Regions from separate parts of the Homo sapiens genome. Here region 2 is linked to region 1. Evidence: fine-mapped QTL for protein levels in blood plasma. A gene starts in region 1. The other region holds a variant in brackets. All regions are shown on one strand. Distances are from middle to middle. Region 1 holds the start of ERBB3 (erb-b2 receptor tyrosine kinase 3). Region 2 has its middle 16 kb from the start of RPS26.

The links. PIP is the posterior inclusion probability: the model's chance that the variant is causal. Sun 2018 read protein levels with aptamers (SomaScan).
Region 2: its variant is fine-mapped to the plasma level of the ERBB3 protein (Sun 2018, PIP 0.95).

What each region holds. Positions count from the first base shown.
Region 1 is chr12:56,077,606-56,081,989 of GRCh38, reverse strand. It overlaps ERBB3 (erb-b2 receptor tyrosine kinase 3), which reads right to left and starts at 1,825. Exons shown (of 28, transcript NM_001982.4): 1 at 1,608-1,825. The coding sequence starts at 1,689. RefSeq lists enhancers at 1,178-2,168, 3,993-4,042.
Region 2 is chr12:56,055,816-56,060,189 of GRCh38, reverse strand. No RefSeq gene overlaps it. Among named protein-coding and RNA genes, the nearest start is that of RPS26, 16 kb to the right of the region's middle. The variant G/C (reference allele first, on the strand shown) is at 2,470.

The DNA.
Region 1 (4,384 bases):
ACAAACAACACCTCTGGGGAGGAGCTAGGCAGCTTGGGGAGCAGGGCAGGGGAAGGGAATCATAAAAATCCCTGCTGTACCCAGGAACCGGGAGCATAGGGAGGGGCAGTGTCACAGGCCCTCCTTTGGTAGAGAGCACTAGGGGTGGGATAGAGCCAGAATCTCCAGCCCCTCCTCAACCAGAGGCCTCCCCTCCAACATCCCCCACCCCCATCACAGCCAGGACAAAGGGGCTATAGAAGGACTGAGACAGGGCCGGATGCCCAGAGGCTGCAGGACCCAGATAAAGGGTAAAGAGACCCAACCATGCCTGCCTCCTGCCTCCCCAGGGAGGGTGGCCAGACTCTGGTACTCCTGGGTTTCTGGGTGAAGATTGCAGGAGTCTGGATGGGACAGTTATACAGTCACTCCACTGCTCCCTCCCACGCCAGTCCCCAGACCACCCCCCTCCACCAGCTGGGAGTGTTCACATCTAAAAATCCCAGGATCTAAATTTAGGCCCAGCAACTGTGAGGGAAGCACAGGTGGTTTCTTCCACTCCCACACTGGGGAAGGGGCCCTGGCTGTGCCAAACCCCAAGCTGAGATCTGAGGGGAGGGGAGGAGATCCACAGAACTTCAGTCCTCAGGTGTCCACGGTCCCAGAGACACCCCAAAGGGGTGGGCTCAGATAGCATGGGAGTCGGGGGAGGACTGGAGAAGAGCAATCCGGGGCTCTGTCTAGGGTCCTAGAGACAGTGTCAGACAATAAGCAAAATGGGGGCGGGAGGCACAAGCTGAGCCCAGGAAGGACTCCCCAAGGCAGGAGGCTTAGAAAGTAGCAGAGGTGCCCTCTTGATCCTCAGGTTGGGGAGAGAAAAGACCAGAGGCTGGACATCCTTGCCCTTACAGCTCCTGGCCCAGGGCCTTGTGTATAGTAGATGCTCAATAAATATGAGTTGTGTTGACCTGGGTCTTGACAAAGAGATGTTGCTTAAGCTCTGCTATACTGAGGAAAGGGGGCGCCAGCCTCTGTTGGGCCTCCTGCCTGATGTCACCTGAACTTGGCCCTCTGGTTAATCTCAGACCTCCCCAGGGCAGGCTCACTCACGGAAGAGGAGGTGCCGCTCCTGTTTTTCCAACACCAGAGAACAACAACCCCCTCCAACCTTCTGTAGCTCCGCCCTGTCGGCAAAACAACGAAACTAGGGGTAGCTGAAATCGGCGCGGGTGGGGGGCAGGGGGTTGGCGAGCAAACCGAGACCCTTCCCGCCAAGGCCCCCACCTCCAAGCACCTCCTGTTTACAGAATGAAGTTCCCTGCTCCCCTCCCTGCAGGGCCCCTCAGAAGTGTGAACTACTGTTTCGGCCTCAGCCTCTTCTGGGGAGACCAATTAGAGGGTCGGCGACGCTCTGGAGAAGGGTGGCGTGAGGGTCCCGGAATGCCGCCCTCGGCCGGACCACGCCGATAACCCGAGCCTGACCGCCCCTCTCCCAGGTGGTCCTGGCAAACCGGGGGCAGCACCCACAACCCCGCGCCGCCTGAGACCGTGCCCATACCCTCCGAGGCTGCGCGCACTGGGTTCCGGCTCCCAGGTGCCGAGCCCGCCGGTGCTCTCGCGCCACTTACCTGCCTGAGAGTTGCCCACCTCGGAGCCCCGGGCCAGGCTGAAAAGCAAGCCCAGCACCTGCAGAGCGTCGTTCGCCCTCATGACTCCGCAGAGGGTGAAGGGAGCCCAGCCAAGTCCGGCCCGGGGGCCCCTAGGCTAGGACATCGAGGCAAGAGCCACCTGAACCGCTGGCGAATTGGTGGCTGCTGCGGCGACGGCAGCGGAGGTTGCAAATTGCAATCGGAGCCGGAGCCGGAGTCCGGGGAGGGATGGCAGGGGAGGGGTGTGTGTGTGTGAGAGAGAGAGAGAGAGGGAGGGAGGAACGCAGAGGGAAGGGGGTGAGTCACGGCCGCGCCCCCTCCCGCGCGAGGCTGGAGTAGGGATTGCGGAGCCTCGGACCGCCTGCCCCGAGCGTGCCACGCCCCGCGGTCCCGCAACTTGGCGGAGCAGATCGAGGATGGGGCTCACCCTAATTTTTCTGCAGGAGATAGGCCAAGGGGAGGTCGAGATTCCGAAAGCCCCCAGATCCAGGGAAGGGTAATGAATGAGGGAGTGGAAAGCTCTCCAAAGCCCTGCCCCCTGAAAGTTGGCCTCGCCCATTAACCAAATCACTCAACTCCCCTAGCCGGTTGGTTCACTTGGTGGATTTTCTCTCAGAATGTGAATATTTCTCTCTGTGTGTTTTTGAGGGGGAGGGTGTTTTTTGCCTCACGTCCAGGCCACCTCAGTTTCTCCCAGACTCGAAACCCCATAATTCATCCACCCAGCCCAGGAACCCGAGCCACAGAGACCGCGTGAAATTGCACTGTCTCTGGCCGCTTCCTCCTCCAGACCCGGCGCCGGCCGGGCCTCTCCCGGGGATTTGGATGGGGGGCGGGGGTGGTTTCCAGCCTGGGAACAGACCCCGGAGCCCGCCTTTCCACTTCTACCCCGGGAGGGGCTCCCGCACCTGTCGCCGTCCCCTCTGCTGCCCCCCACGGCCGCCTGGGAGAACAGCTGCCTCCCCTTCCACACTGGAGTCTGGCCGCACCGTCCGGGCGGCCGCAGTTCCCGCCGCTCTTCTGGGGACCCAGATGGGCACACACCAAGGCGCTTACACCCTCCCAGGTGCCTTCCAAGTCCAGGCTCTCGCAGGAAAGGGGATGGGGCAGTGAAGTGGGACGCGGAGAGGACACTAGAGACTGCGTCCACGAATGGCGTGGACCTCTGGAACCTCCCCCACCAGCTGCCCGGACCTGGCCAGAGGCGGTCGGGCTCCCTGCGGGTTGCTGCCCAAAGCCCTGCTAGTCCCGGGACGGATCCGACCGGCGCCGCCTGGTGCCCATCCGTGGCAGTGGAGTCCCAGACGGCCTTGCATTTCAAATCCCTTAAACTGGTATTCGGGATCTCGCCCGGAGAGCCTAGTTGTTTTCTCCAGAACTTCAAGCCTGAAGACTTCGAAAACAGTTGAGCCTTGATAAAGAAAAATTTCACCCCTCACACCTAGCAAAGACTACCGGCTAACATTCCTTAAACATGCTCCCTATTGATATGCAACCTAGAGGGCCTGTTCTCTACTGGAGAATCTCCGCTTTGGGGAGGTTGGCTTTCTCCAGACCATGTGTATAGTAGTCATAATAATAATAGCAACAACAAAACCATTAACATATACAAACATTTCCATATATCATTTCATTTACAAAGTATGTCCTCAAACTTAGTGCCTTAGAGAATGTGTCACTTAACATAAAAATTATATGATTTAGGCAATATAACTCCCCATTTTACAGAACTAGAAGTGTGTGACCTCTCCAAGGTCATCCACCTGGTGACAGTGGTTGAGGTGATCAGGTGATTGGGAGGTGGGGCTCAGACTTTTACCTAGGGTTTCTTTCTCTCTTTTTTTTTCTTTTCTTTTTTTTTTTTTTTGAGACAGAGTTTCGCTCTTGTTGCCCAAGCTGGAATGATCCACCTGCTTCAGCCTGCCAAAGTGCTGGGATATCTTCCATCTTAAAAAACAAAACATTCGGCTGGGCGCGGTGGCTCATGCCTGTAATCCCAGCACTTTGGGAGGCCGAGGCGGGCAGATCACTTGAGGTCAGGAGTTCGAGACCAGCCTAGTCAACATAGTGAAACACCGTCTCTACTAAAAATACAAAAATTAGCTGGGCATGATGGTGGGCACCTGTAATCCCAGCTACTTAGGAGACTGAGGCAGGAGAATCGCTTGAACCCGGGAGGTGGAGGTTGCAGTGAGCTGAGATTGCATCACTGCACTCCAGCTTGGGCGACAGAGTGAGACGCCATCTCAAAACAAAAACAAAACATTGTTTTGTTTGACCTCATGGCCTTCTGGTCTGTTGCTTTTTTTTTTTTGACACGGAATCTTGTTCTGTTTCTGTCACCCAGGCTGGAGTGCAGTGGCCTGATCTCAGCTCACTACTGAGTTCAAGTGATTCTCCTGCCTCAGGCTTCCAAGTAGCTGGGGCTACAAGGCGTGCGCCACCAAGCCCGGCTAATTTTTTGTATTTTTAGTAGAGATGGGGTTTCACTGTGATGGCCAGACTAGTCTCTAATTCCTGACCTCAGGTGATCCACCCACCTCAGCCTCCCAAAGTGCTGGGATTACAGGTGTGAGCCACCACACCTGGCTTTTTTTCCTTTTTTTGAGACAGGATCTCCCTCTGTCACCCAGGCTGGAGTGCAGTGGTGCAATCATGGCTCACAGCAGCCTCAACTTCCCAGGCTCAGGTGATTCTCCCACTTCAGCCTCCCTAGTAACTGAGTCTACAGGTGGGCACCAAAATGTCTGGCTACT
Region 2 (4,374 bases), 22 kb after region 1:
TATTTTAAATATTTAAGGAATAACAAGCCAGGCGTGGTGACTCAACGCCTTGTAATCCCAGCATTTTGGGAGGCTGAGGTGGGCGGATCGCCTGAGGTCAGGAGTTGGAGACCAGCTTGGCCAACATGGTGAAATCCCATCTCTACTAAAAATATATATATATATGAAATAGCCAGGCATGGTGGCGTGTGCCTGTAATCCCAGCTACTTGGGTGGCTGAGGCAGGAGAATCGCTTGAACCCGGGAAGCGGAGCTTGCAGTGAGCCAAGATTGCACCACTGCACTCCAGCCTGGGCGACAGAGCGGGACTCCATCTCAAAACATAATAATAATAAATAAATAAATAAAAAGGAAGAACAGGTGAGCCAAAGCAAAGCTAATCTTCAACGATAATGGGCACAGACAAATTGTTATCAATATGTAGGGACTCAGGGATTATTTTTCCCACGACCCCTTCCTGAGAAATCCACTAGAGAGTGCACTTCAGACAACTAGAGAGATGTCAACAGAAGGGCTGAGAGTCAGTACTGTATATTAGTTACTCATGGAAATGAGACTAATGAAGGTAAAAGAGAGAGTATAGTATGTAATGGCCATATGATCTGATAATGTAGACATTATAACCATAAAAAATAAGGAGAAAGGAAATAGCATTTACAAAAAAAGTTTAAATATGTTTTTAGTAATCATAATGACGAAGGTAGTACTACTAGTTATTCTGAGACTGTTTAATGTATTGTGTAGGATAAAACAAATAAGGAATTATGGAATGTTCTAATTCTCCCATTTCTGTGTCCGTAAGAACCATGACTCTTGATGGAAGAAAGAAAACACAGACTTTTTGTAGTTTTGTAGTCCCAAATTTGACAAACCCAATAGTAATGAGCATCTTCAATAGTAATGAGCATCCTGGTGCAGAGATGGTAGTCTCTAATGACCTTTTTTTTTCTTTTACAGTTGAGTCTCACTCTGTTGTTCAGGCAGGAGTGCAGTGACCCAATCATAGCTTACTGCAGCAATCCTCCTGCCTCATCCTCCCAAGTAGCTGGAACTATGGGTACATGCCACAGCACCCTACCAAGTTTTTTTTCACTTTTTATTTTTTTGAGATAGAGTTTCACTATTGTCCCCCAGGCTGGAGAGCAACAGCATCATCTCAGCTCACCGTAACCTCTGCCTCCCAGGTTCAAGTGATTCTCCTGCCTCGGCCTCCCGAGTAGCTGGGATTACAGGCACCCGTCACCATGCCCAGATAATTTTTGTATTTTTAGTAGAGATGGGGTTTCACCATGTTGGCTAGGTTGATCTCGAACTCCTGACCTCAGGTGATCCACCCTCCTCAGCCTCCCAAATTGCTGGGATTACAGGTGTGAGCCACCACACCCAGCCCCCCAGCCAAGTTTTTTATTTTTGTGGAGACCATTGGGCACTATTTTTCCCCAGTCTGGTCTCAAACTCCTGGACTCAAGTGATCATCTTGCCTCAGTCTTCCAAGTCACAGGGATTACAGGTGTGAGCCACTATGCCCAACTCTAATTATCATTTCTCATTAAAGAAACCAAGATTCTTGAAGAAATATGTGGAGACTGCTGGATGCTGGGGAAATGGTAAGATCAATGGATTGCAGTGAACGTGAAGGACACAAATTGTTGAGGTGGCATGGTTGAGTAAGTGAGCTAAAAGGAGATTATTGGAGATTTGGGGTTGAAATTTCTAAGATGGTACAGTTTTTGGTGATGCTAAGGTCTAAGTTGAGGCCAAGGCAGGCGGATCATCTAAGGTCAGGAGTTCAAGACCAGCCTGGCCAAGATGGTGAACCCTGTCTCTACTAAAAATATAAAAATTAGTTGGGCGTGGTGGCAGGTGCCTGTAAGCTACTCAGGATGCTGAGGCAAGAGAATCGCTTGAACCTGGAAGACGGAGGTTGCAGTGAACTGAGAGTGTGCCACTGCACTCCAGCCTGGGCAAGAGAGTGAGACTCTGTCTCAAAAAAGAAAGAAAACAAAAGGAAAATTAAAGAAAAGGAAAAGAAAAGAGAGAGAGGGAAGGAAGAAAGAAAGAGAGTGGAAAGCAAGAAAGCAAGAGGCCAGGTGCTGTGGCTCACGCCTGTAATCCCAGCACTTTGGGAGGCCGAGGTGGGTGGATCACGAGGCCAGGAGATCGAGACCATCCTGGCTAACATGGCGAAACCCCGTCTCTACTAAAAATACAAAAAATTAGCCAGGCGTGGCAGAGGGCACCTGTAGTCCCAGCTACTTGGGAGGCTGAAGCAGGAGAATGGCATGAACCTGGGAGGCGGAGCTTGCAGTGAGCCGAGGTGGCGCCACTACACTCCAGCCTGGGTGACAGAGCCAGACTCCGTCTCAAAAAAAAAAAAAAAAAAAAAAAAAGAAAGAGAGAAAGAAAGAGGGTCTTGCTATGTTGCCCAGGCTGATCTCAAACTCCTGTCCTCAAGTAATCCTCTGCCTC[G/C]GCCTCCCAAAGTGTTGGGATTACAGGCATGAGCCACCTGGCCTGCATCTGATTTATCTTTGAAACATCCAGGGACTAGTAAAATTGGTGCACCCAGACCAATTTTTTTTTTTTTTTTGAGACAGAATTTTGCACTTGTTGCCCAGGCTGGAGTGCAATGGCGCGATCTTGGCTCACTGCAACCTCAGCCAAGGAATTCGGGCAGCCTCTAGAAGCTGAAAAGGGAAGGAAATAGATTCTCCCCTAGGGCGTCCAGAAGGAACCCATCTTCACCAACACCTTGTAGTCCTGTAAGGCCCGTTTCAGATTCTGACCTCTAGAACTATAAGATAATAAAACTGGCCGGGCACGGTGGCTTACGCCTGTAATCCCAGCACTTTGGGAGGCCGAGGCGGGTGGATCACGAGGTCAAGAGATCGAGGCCATCCTGGACAACATGGTGAAACCCGTCTGTACTTAAAAAATACAAAAAATTAGCCGGGTGTGGTGGTGTGCACCTGTAATCCCAGCTACTTGGGAGGCTGAGGCAGGAGAATCACTTGAACCCGGGAGGCGGAGGTTGCAGTGAGCTGAGATCACGCCATTGCACTCCAGCCTGGGCAAAAAGAGCAAAACTCTGTCTCAAAAAAATAAAACTAAAATAAATAATAATAATAATAAAACTGAGTTTGTGGTAATTTGTTACAGCACCGAGAGGAAACAAATACAACTGCCTGCCACCTGCATCCTTCTCATGCGCCCCCATACATGCATGCATGCATGCATTCATTCATTCAGTGTTATGTGTTGCTCCAAACACTGAGGACACAGGAGAACAAGAGACAGGTTTCTGCCTTCAAGGGGCTTACATTCTAGAGAGTGCAGACAGCCAATGAACAACTCAGGAAATAACTTCAGTAGTAAGTGGCATGAAGAAAACGAAACAAGATACTGGGAAAGTGACCACTGCTGCTCACCTGGAGGAGTTAATTTAGACAGAGTGGTCAAGAAGGGGGGTCTCTGAGGCAGTGTCATTTGCACTAAGCTTTAAATAAGAAGGAGCCAGTTTTGTGTTGACCTGAAAGAAGAGCATTGCTGGCAGAGCAACTAGTGAGGGGATAAGGTCTGAAGGAAGAATGAGCTTGGAGGGTCTGAGGAACAGAAAGGAGGCCAGTGTGGTGGAACAGAAAGAATCATGGGGAGGCCATGGCAGAGGAGGTGGTTAGAGAGGAAGGGAGGGGCCAGACCATGCAGGGGCATATATACCACAGTAAGGAGTGTACATTTTAATTACAGAGAGAAGCTTAAGAATTTCAGTGGGGGAGTGATGAGATTGTATTTTTTTTTTTTTTTTGAGACAGAGTCTTGCTCTGTCGCCCAGGCTGGAGTACAGTGGCTTGATCTTGGCTCACTGCAATCTCCGCCTCCTGGGTTCAAGCAATTCTCTTGTCTCAGCATCCTAAGTAGCTGGGATTACAGACAAGTGCCACCACACCTGGCTAATTTTTGTATTTTTAGTAGAGACGGGGTTTCACCATGTTGTCCAGGATGGTCTCGATCTCTTGACCTCATAATCCACCGCACTAGTCTTGGCCTCCCAAAGTGTTTGGATTACAGGCATAAGCCACTGCACCTGGCCGTTTTTTTTTTTTTGTTTTTTTTTTTGTTGTTGTTTTGTTTTTTTTTTGAGATGGAGTCTAGCTCTGTTGCCCAGGCTGGAGGGCGGTGGTGTGATCTCGGCTCACCACAACCTCCGCCTCCCAGGTTCAAGCGATTTTCCTGCCTCAGCCTCCTGAGTAGCTGGGACTACAGGCATGTGCCACCACACCTGACTAATTTTGTATTTTTAGTAGAGATGGGGTTTCACTATGTTGGCCAGGCTGGTCTCAAACTCCTGACCTCATGATCTACTGCCTTGGCCTCCCA